3 linked regions of the Homo sapiens genome follow. The protein of the gene in region 2 purifies or fractionates together with the protein of the main gene of each other region. This does not show direct contact. Each region holds a gene or a part of one and is shown on either strand. Other genes may lie near its edges.

Region 1 (3,658 bases), on a different chromosome or scaffold from region 2:
GAGCTGTAAGGTAATAGTGATCAATTCTGCCACTAACATAGCAGTGGGAATATCAAGGAGGGCTTTATAGAAGAGGTGACATTTGAGTGGGTGTCATTGTTTAATAGAACTTTTTGTATTAATGTTGCTGGTGCGGATATTTCATTTCCTTTTTTTTTTTTTTTTTTTTTTTTTTTGAGATGGAGTCTCACTCTCTTTCCCAGGCTAGAGTGCAGTGGTGCAGTCTCGGCTCACTACAACCTCCACTTCCCAGGTTCGAGTGATTCTCCCACCGCAGCCTCCCGAGTAGCTGGGATTATAGGCATGAGCCACTGTGCCCAGCCTCAGAGTGTACCCTTTAAAAAATTATTTTAAAAAAATTTTACCTCTTGACTCTGAAATATATTGAGAGGTCTTCCCCCAATGAGATAAAAATGAACAAGTGTGTAAACAGTTAAGAAGTTTTTTCTCAAGCTAATTTTTTTTTTTTTTTTTTGAGACAGAGTCTTGCTCTGTCACCCAGGCTGGAGGGCAGTGGCGCGATCTCCCCGGCTCACTGCAAGCTCCGCCTCCCGGGTTCACGCCATTCTCCTGCCTCAGCCTTCCGAGTAGCTGGGACTACAGGCGCCCACCACCTTGCCCGGCTAATTTTTTGTATATTTAGTAGAGACAGGGTTTCACCGTGTTAGCCAGGATGGTCTTGATCTCCTGACCTCGTGATCCGCCCGCCTCGGCCTCCCAAAGTGCTGGGATTACAGGCCTGAGCCACCGTGCCGGGCCAAATGTTTTTTTTTTTTTTTTTGAGACGGAGTTTCGCTCTTGTTACCCAGGCTGGAGTGCAGTGTCGTTATCTTGGCTCACTACAATCTTCACCTCCTGGGTTCAACCAATTCTCCTACCTCAGCGTCCTGAGTAGCTGGGATTACAAGCGCCTGCTATCAAGGCCGGCTAATTTTTTGAATTTTTGTTTGTTTGCTTGTTTGTTTTGTGTTTTTGGGAGACAGAGTCTTGCTCTGTCATCCAGGCTGGAGTGCGGTGGCATGATCTCGGCTCACTGAAACCTCTGCCTCCCGGTTTCAAACCATTCTCCTGCCTCAGCCTCCTGAGTAGACAGGTGCGTGCCACCACGCCCAGCTAATTGTATTTTTAGTAGAGACGGGGTTTCGCCATGTTGCCCAGGCTGTTCTCGAACTCCTGACCTCAGATTATCCACCTGCCTCGCCCTCCCAAAGATTTGGGGTTACAGGCGTGAACCACGGTGCCCGGCCTAATTTTTTGTATTTTTAGTACATACGGGGTTTCATTATGTTTGCCAGGCTGGTCTCTAACTCATGACCTCAGGTGGTCCATCTGCCTGGGGCTCTCAAAGTGCAGGGATTACAGGTGTGAGCCACCACGCCTGGCCTCTCAACCTGATTTTTATTTTTAGTAGACACATTGGTGATGAGACAATCAAATGTTCGCATTGATGAGAAAAGGCAGAAATGATTTTTGTTCTCTGGATTCTTGAAATAAAATTTTTTCCAAAGGACAAGAAGATCCCATCCCAGTAAGGCAATGCAAGAACCTGCAAGCAAAATGTACCTGAGACTCACAGTGGGGTACAAAGTGTCTCCTGGGAAGGTGGTCACTGAGTAATTTAATAGGCAGGATGGGGATGACAGAATATTTTGAGTGATATTATGGTCTGACTTGACAGTGGAGTCAGACATGTTTGTGTCCCAATCAGCACTGCCACTTCCTGAGTTTGTCACCTTGGAAAGATTTTTTCACTTATTTCAATTTCAGTTTTTTTTTTTTTTTTTTTTTTTGAGACAGAGTCTAGCTCTGTCGCCCAGGCTGGAGTGCAGTGGTACAATCTTGGCTCACCACAACCTCCGCCTCCCGGGTTCAAGCTGTTCTCCTGCCTCAGCCTCCTGAGTAGCTGGGATTACAGGCGCCCACCAGCATGCCCAGCTAATTTTTCTATTTTTAGTAGAGACGGGGTTTCACTGTGTTGGCCAGGCTGGTCTGGAACTCCTGACCTTATGATCTGCCCACCTCAGCTTCCCAAAGTGCTGGGATTACAAGCGTGAGCCACCACGCCCGGCCCAATTTCAGTTTTTTAATAACTGTAAATTACATTTCATCAGAAGAGCTTAAAAGATGTTTAAAAAGTCAACGACTATGAAAGGTATATTTCAGAAAAATCTAGTGATATGTTTTATTTGTTAAATTTATGTTTTTTTCTGGTTGTGTAATTTTAAATAGAACCCCAGGGGTTTGCTTTGAGAATGCTACCAGAGAAGAGAAATAGGAAAAATCTTTTTTCCATTATGGCTATACAAAGTGAATACATTTCCACAAGCAAATATGATAGATTAATTGGTGCATTGTATATATTTCTCAAACCATCAGCTCCTCTTTTTTTCAAAGTCTAGAATTTGTAATGGTGGATATCTCTGTTCTGTATTCTGTTGTCTAGATATCCAAGTTTAATGCAAAATTTTATGACATGGAACTTGACACTTTCTAGAAATGTTCACATATGGTTGTTTATTAAATTATCTCTCATGGAAATATTTAAATGACATGTTTATTGTCTGAAAAGGACAGATATTTAAGCTTTTTTTTTTTTTTTTTCTTTTTTTTTGAGAAAGAGTCTCGTTCTTTTGCCCAGGCTGGAGTGCAGTGGTACAATCTTGGCTCACTACAACCTTCACCTCGCAGGTTCAAGCGATTCTCCTGCCTCAGCCTCCCTAGTAGCTGGGATTACAGGTACACACCACCAGGCCCATCTAATTTTTCTATATTTAGTAGAGACAGGGTTTCACCATGTTGGCCAGGCTGTTCTCAAACTCCTGACCTCAGCCAATCCGCCCGCCTCAACCTCTTAAAGTGATGGGATTACAGGTGTGAGCCATTGTGCTTGGCCCCCTTTAACTATTTTATGTGACTCTTCTCTCTTACCTGAACGTTGCCCAAAAAGAGATTGTGACATATATTTGGGCCCAGCACCAAGGTGATGTAACTCTCCTCTTCAGCCGGGCCTTGCCCACAGAAGAGAGAATGACTTATTCCTGAGTTTAGCATACAGGTGATTTGATTCTTCTGCTGACTCCCAGAAGTCACTGTAACATATATCTGGGTCCATCGCTGAGACTGTGTGACTCTCTTCTCCCTGGGACCTGTCCACAGTGGGGATTGTGACGTATTGCTTGGCCAAGCACCTACGTGATATGACTCTTTTCTTAGGCCTGGGCCCTACCCACTGGAGTGATTTTGACACATTGCTGGGCCTAGCTCAAAGGTTATATGTGACTTCACACTTCTTCCTGGGCCCTACCCATGAGGGGCACTGTGTCTTAACTCTGAGACACTTAATTAGGTGATGTGACTCTCTTTTTTCGAGATGGAGTCTGGCTCTGTCACCCAGGCTGGAGTGCAGTGGCAAAATCTTGGCTCACTGCAACCTCCACCTCCTGGGTTCAAGTGATTCAACTGCCTCAGCCTCATGAGTAGCTGGGATTATAGGCATGCACCGCCACAGTCAGCTACTTTTTGTATTTTTAGTAGAGATGAGGTTTCACCATGTTGGCCAGGCTGGTCTCAAATTCCTGACCTCAAGTGATCCACCTGCCTTGACCTCCCAAAGTGCTGGGATTACAGGCGTGAGCCACGATGCCCGGCCGATGTGTCT
Region 2 (2,451 bases):
TGTGGCCCTGCGGGAAGATGCAGGAGACAGCGTGTGGGGAGATGGCCTGTGTGGGCTGAGGTGGATGTGTGCTGAGGGTGAGGGAGGGATTCACTTTGAAAAGGGACCAGCAATTCAAAGCCAATTACCAGGAAGCAAACCCAGTGACACTATTTTTGTTTAAAACCAAGAGGACATAGAATGCAAAGGAGCCAGTTATCTCCTGTGACTTGTTACACGGTCATCAGGAGCTTCTCCCTGGAAGGACTCAAAAGCTGCACCATTTTGGTGAATATGTAGCCTCCCATGCACCGGGTGGAAGGACAGCACCCCCTTGGGTAGGTTCTGACAGCTTTGATTAAACATGACCTTTCAGGGAATGCATTTTAATCGATGCATGTATCGGTCTGAGGTTACAGGACATTTTACTTACCCATTCGTCCATCTTGAGGTGGACTAATCATGGAGATTCTCGCAGGGCCGGCTGCTATCTCAGACTAAGAATGCAACAAGAAAACAATGGGTAAAATTCCAATATTGCGGCTTACGAGATTCGGACTCCCACTGTCTGTTAGGAACACATTTCCCAGAACCCCATCTCCCTCATCTTTATCGCCCTCTGACAAGTTCCTGTCTAACTTGATTCTGTGTTCACCTCCCGACTCTGCCTGCTGGTGGTAGAGGTGGTGTGGGTGGGTATTACCTGATTACCTGTTTGATTCCCTCTGTTCCACCAGGGCCTAAAACAGTGAACGGATAAAGGGCTCTACTAGGAATTTTAGGTGAAAAAAAACAAAATTTGCAGCTGATGTTAGAGAATGTGAAATTCTGAGTAAATCATTCTTGGGTGCATAATTTTGTCACCTTGAAATCCAGATGCTGATGGACAGGTTGGAGCTAATGCTGCTCAGAGCTGTGTGTGCTGGGCCCTGCTCTGTGCCCACCCTTCACTCTATCCAGCAACCACGAGGCCGCTTCTGCCACCATCCCTCCTCAACCCACAGGAACCTGTGAACCCAGAGCTGCCAGCGCAGGTTCTGAGACTGGTAAGGGAGGCTGCTCTGCTCTGAGCCCCTCCTGCCTCTCAGTGCGACCTGGGGGCATGGCAAGGTGCTACTTCTAGTTGCTGCCCCTTCCTGGGCTCGCTCCTCTGGCTCTCCACTCACTGCTGGCATCTCCTGTTCCCAGGCTCCTTGCCTCACCCCGCTGGTCCTCAGGCTCTGCCGCCATCAACTGTGCCCCGCCAAGACCTCTGCTACCCACTTTCCTGGCTTCTGCCCCCGGCACAGCCACCCCACAGATCCTTTAATCCACAGGCCCTTCCAGTACACCGTGGAAGCCCCTCTGTGTCCTCATGGTCTCTCTACCAGCACAGGAGTGCCCTGCTCCAGGGACTCTCTCTGCCACACCCTTGGCCCTACCCTGCCAGTCCTCCACTCCTACTCACTGGCAAGACTCTAACCTTGGAAGGACGGACCCCCCTGCTTGGCATGGCCCTCTGAGCTGCCTGCAGGCCAGCTTTCTCATGGAGCTGTCCACTAAGCACATTCCCCATCCACCTGAAGCTCATGACCTCACTCCTACCCCCAAGAAGACAGAATCTTGTGAAATCAGGAGCTTTTGTCTCTGTACCTTCAGCCTCTGCCTGCCATCCTGTGAACACCAGACATATTCCTGCCTCATCAGGACAGGCTCCAGGTACTTCCTTTCACCTGCCTGGAGTGCTGCTATGCCATCATTTCTGGATCCTTCCATCCGCTAGGATGTCTTCAATATCAAGTTCATCCTAAGAATCCCCTTGACATCACCGTCCCTTCGAACTACATTCCATTTGCTGCTCCATTTAGAGAAAATCTCCGCAGAGCGTTCAAGTGCTGGTGTCTTTCCCCGTCCTGGTGCTGTCTGACAGCTGTGAGTTACAGAAGACAGTGGTGCAAACCTTTCTTGTAAATGGGCCATGGCAGACTTGGCTGGGCAAGACACTGGTTCCTGCCACATGGGAGGGGCTGTGTACGCATCGGTGTGTTCACATCTGCATTTGGCTGCCTACACGCATGTTTGCTCTTTGGATTCTCCTTTAAACCAGTTTTCACATTTAACTGGTGTATTAGGCCATTCTTGCACTGCGATAAATACCAGAGACTGTGTAATTCATAAAGAAAAGAGGTTTAACTGGCTCATGCTTCTGAGGGCCGTACAGGAAGCATGGCAACAGCTGCTTCTGGGGAGGCCTTGGGAGGCTACAATCAGGGTGGGAGGCCAAGGGGGAGCAGGCGCGTTGCAGGGCGAGCAGGCAAGAGACTGGGGGGTGGTGCCATGTACTTTTAACCAGCCAGATCTCGTGAGAACTCACCCACCATGGCAAAGACAGCACCAGCCACCAGGGATCTGCCCCCATAACCCAAACTTCTGCTACCAGGCCCCACCTCGGGCACTGGGGATTATAATTCCACATGAGATTCGGGCAGGGAC
Region 3 (3,658 bases), on a different chromosome or scaffold from region 2:
TAAAAACACTTTAGAGAAGAGTTATTTTTCTACCTCAGCAAAACTACAGAGGACAGGCTAGATTGTTGGATGACCCCAAAGCCTAAGTTCATTCTATTTAAAAGATCTTAAAACCTTAAAAAAAAAAAAAAAAAGTGAGGAGGGAGAAATACAATCTTTTCTCTTTTGAAGTAATGTGTACTTCCTACAAATATTATGATATTCATCCTTGGGAATGGAGTTTTCTCCATTTTGCCCATGTTAACAATATATTTCTAAGTATTTTATAATCTCAATATATACCTATCTATACTTTCATATCTGCATTCCTTTCAAAAAGTTAAATGTCTCTCTACTGTTGCTGATATGGTGACTACACCTGACCCGAACTGCATTTCTTTTCATCTAAAAGGAAGTGTTCCACATGTAGACAATTAAACTAACTGTTGTTGTAGACAATGTTCAGCTTTAAATGAGGCCCTGACTAACAATCTTGATCACATTTGCTTCCCTATTTGAATACATCAGTGTGTACTGCATAATGATTTTTTTCCCCCTTGCAACAAGACAGTTATGTTCTTGAAAGGGCTGCCTGGTAGCACGAATAGGTCTACTTCAGGTAGACTAGTTATAAGATAACTTTAACAGACAGTATGCCAACAAAATTAAATTGTTATTTATAAAACATAAATTATTTTTCAGAAATAAGCAAGTTTTTTTAATAAAAAAAGCAAATCTCTCTAAAAGATATTTTCAATGTTTAAATATTTTTCCCTAAAATGTAGAACATTTAACACCAAAAAATCATAAAAATTCATAGGAAAATGAAAAATATCAAAAAGATTTCTGATGTTTAATGTCTCCTATCAGCAAATACACCATCTGGTATATTCAAGCGCTGTTCATTCAGTTTAAATAAAGCTGTCTGAAAGTTCTTCTTTAAGCCAAACATTAAAAAATGAAAATGCTTGTGTTAACAATGAATGAAGCACAATAATTTATTGCTATTAAAGCACAACTGGCCAGCACCTTTCAGCAGTCCAGGAGAAAAGCAGAATGCCTTGCTTCCTCTGGAAACTTGATTGGCATCACTTTCATTTTATGCTGTAAGTTGCATGGCTGAAGCATTCCATACAGCAGAACATTTTAGGTACTTATGCTAATAGTGGTAAAAAGGATCATCTGATTCTTATTTTCATCATCCTTAATAATCCCTTCTTTTCCTAAATCTTCAAATAGATCTGTAAGTTTTAATCAACAATTTCACAAATATAAATTTCCCCACCATTAATCATCCTTTTTCAAAATCCTTATGGAGTGAATTACTAGCTGAGAGGGGACGCCAATTCTAGTAAGTGAATGTTACCCAGCAGGGATATAAAGCTGTCAACACCATGGTGCTCTTGCTAGCTCTAAACTCTCTCCTAGCCTTCATATGTTTTTTAAAGAGATATTAGCCTTTTTTTTTTCCTAAGGACCGTCTGTAAAAGCTGACTGACATACACATCTGAGCACTTACATTTTATTACATACATGCTTTAAAACACACTGCTCAGATAAGAGTAAAAACATCCCAGAAAGTGTTGGAAAGACAAAGCAAAACATCTAGTTTCTAACAGTCTTCTAAAGCTAACCACATAGTAAACAATCCACTTTTAAGTCCCCTGTTAAAACACAACCTTAAAGACAGTGACAGTGTATCTACCCTCTCTTCTATTTAAATTGAGACACTAAAGTAATGCCCCTTCTTTTATGAATACTTAGTTCTCATCAAAAAACACAGTAAATTCCCTCTACCTAAATAAGTAGAGTAACAGCAGAATTTATTACTGCAACCAATGCATTCAGAAGTATATTTAAACTATATTTACCTCACTGCTTATCAAAAACAGTAAGATAAATTGCTATTTGATTTGACAACCAATTAACTTGATCTCCCTTATTTTTAAAAGAACAGCTTTTAAGAAAGAGGAACACTAAAGATTAACAAATATGTACTCCCAAATTTTTGGCTCCACTTTTAAGACAAATTTTATTGTATCCATCATTACACCATTGAAAAGACTGCAATATATCTGAAAACGGTAATAAATGATACAGAGCTATAAATACTTGTGTAGTTATCTATGCTTATTATATTGCTTTATAAAGAAAATTTAAACAAAAGAACATAGAATGGTAGAAATATAATCTACTTTATATTTACTCTATGTTCAAAAAAATCCTTTAATTATAAAAAAACTAACTAGAAATGTATTTTAAACATTTTTTAAAATTTAGAATGTGCATTTTTCAAAAGGCCTGGCTTTGCTCCAAACTGTATACATGGTTAACAGTTACAAAGAAACTATTAACATCTTAACATACATTTGGAAATTATATAAACTTAAACTCATAATTTTGTTAACATTCAATTAGAAACCTTTGTACTATCAAAATCTTATCTTCTAAGTTGTTATATTCTAAAGTTGTCTAAATTAATCTCTTTACACACTATTATGCTGTCTTTTTTAAAAAAATTTAAATTCCACTAAACAATTTTAACCAGTTTACTATCGTGTATTATAAACGATATGTATTGAGACAAAATAATGTCATCTTTATTTTCAATTTGGGAAGCAGCTAATAAGACCTCTGCTATTACTAAATTAAGTTAATCAAGAGAAAGTGTCTAAGGCAGCTGGTTGAAACAAATCTATTATTCTTCACCAAGATAATAATTTTAGTTTATATTAAACACATAAGGGCTCAAATGTGAACTATAGTCTCAGAAAATTTGAAAACCAACCACTATTTAACACTAAAGTTATCCCTGGTCAACAGAACAAGGCACTTTCTTTCATAGTTCAACATGATATAGAGGAGGGGAAAAAACTTGTTTTAGGGAAGCACGTTGTTAACAATTACATTCTAAAATGTTTACAGCTCCTTTCAATTTAGTGAATTTTATTAGATCTTCAGAAAGATACCAAAATTTTAAGTCCAAGCCTTTTCTGTCCACAAAGGCCACTTTGGAACACACTGTCTCCAAGGAGTTTCAGAACTTTTTCAAACATTTTCAGCACTTAGCATATCTCATAATTGGTACCATCATACTCTATGAATTTTTATTTCTTATATGCATATACTAACTGATTATGCCAAAAGTCTGACATTATTTGCTCCAGTATCAGGACAACAAATTAATAAACCTCTCTTTTAAAAAGTGGGTCACAGAACTGTTTTCTTTTGCTTCAATAAAGTATATTTTCAAGTCCCAAAAAGGGGAGATAAACAAGCCAGAATCCATCACCAAACTTTTTAACTCACAACATTGAAAGGATGAATACTTCTCAAGTGAGACGATTAATATGAAAGACTGAGACAAACCATCCTAAGTATTTACCATGAAGAAATAGAAATAGCAAAATAAGTAAAAAGAAAAAAATACGATTTTATAAAACGTATGTGTTCAACTCTTTAAGGAGGAATGAACATTTTTAGATGTAAGTAACTATTTTGAAATACACACAATAGACACTTACAACAAGGGGGTGGGAGCTTATCATTAAGGTTTGCCAAGGTTTTATATCATTTAAGACAAGTTAATATATTGAATATTAAATGGGCTACTGTTGAAATTATTAGAGAAAAAACGTTAGAGGCAAAAAAAATTAAACTAGTGATTTATGCCAAACAC

What was found.
Region 1: the proteins of RNF212 (region 2) and RPSA2 purify together in Homo sapiens (affinity purification with mass spectrometry; one large-scale study listed by BioGRID and IntAct). This does not show direct contact.
Region 3: the proteins of RNF212 (region 2) and SATB2 purify together in Homo sapiens (affinity purification with mass spectrometry; one large-scale study listed by BioGRID and IntAct). This does not show direct contact.

The regions. Positions count from the first base shown.
Region 1 is NC_000019.10:23,765,995-23,769,652, forward strand, and holds part of RPSA2 (small ribosomal subunit protein uS2B), read left to right. Parts: intron 1-3,658. UniProt on the Homo sapiens protein: Required for the assembly and/or stability of the 40S ribosomal subunit. Required for the processing of the 20S rRNA-precursor to mature 18S rRNA in a late step of the maturation of 40S ribosomal subunits. Also functions as a cell surface receptor for laminin.
Region 2 is NC_000004.12:1,073,187-1,075,637, forward strand, and holds part of RNF212 (probable E3 SUMO-protein ligase RNF212), read right to left. Parts: intron 477-2,451; coding exon 413-476; intron 8-412; coding exon 1-7. UniProt on the Homo sapiens protein: SUMO E3 ligase that acts as a regulator of crossing-over during meiosis: required to couple chromosome synapsis to the formation of crossover-specific recombination complexes.
Region 3 is NC_000002.12:199,451,333-199,454,990, forward strand, and holds part of SATB2 (DNA-binding protein SATB2), read right to left. Parts: intron 1-3,658. UniProt on the Homo sapiens protein: Binds to DNA, at nuclear matrix- or scaffold-associated regions. Thought to recognize the sugar-phosphate structure of double-stranded DNA.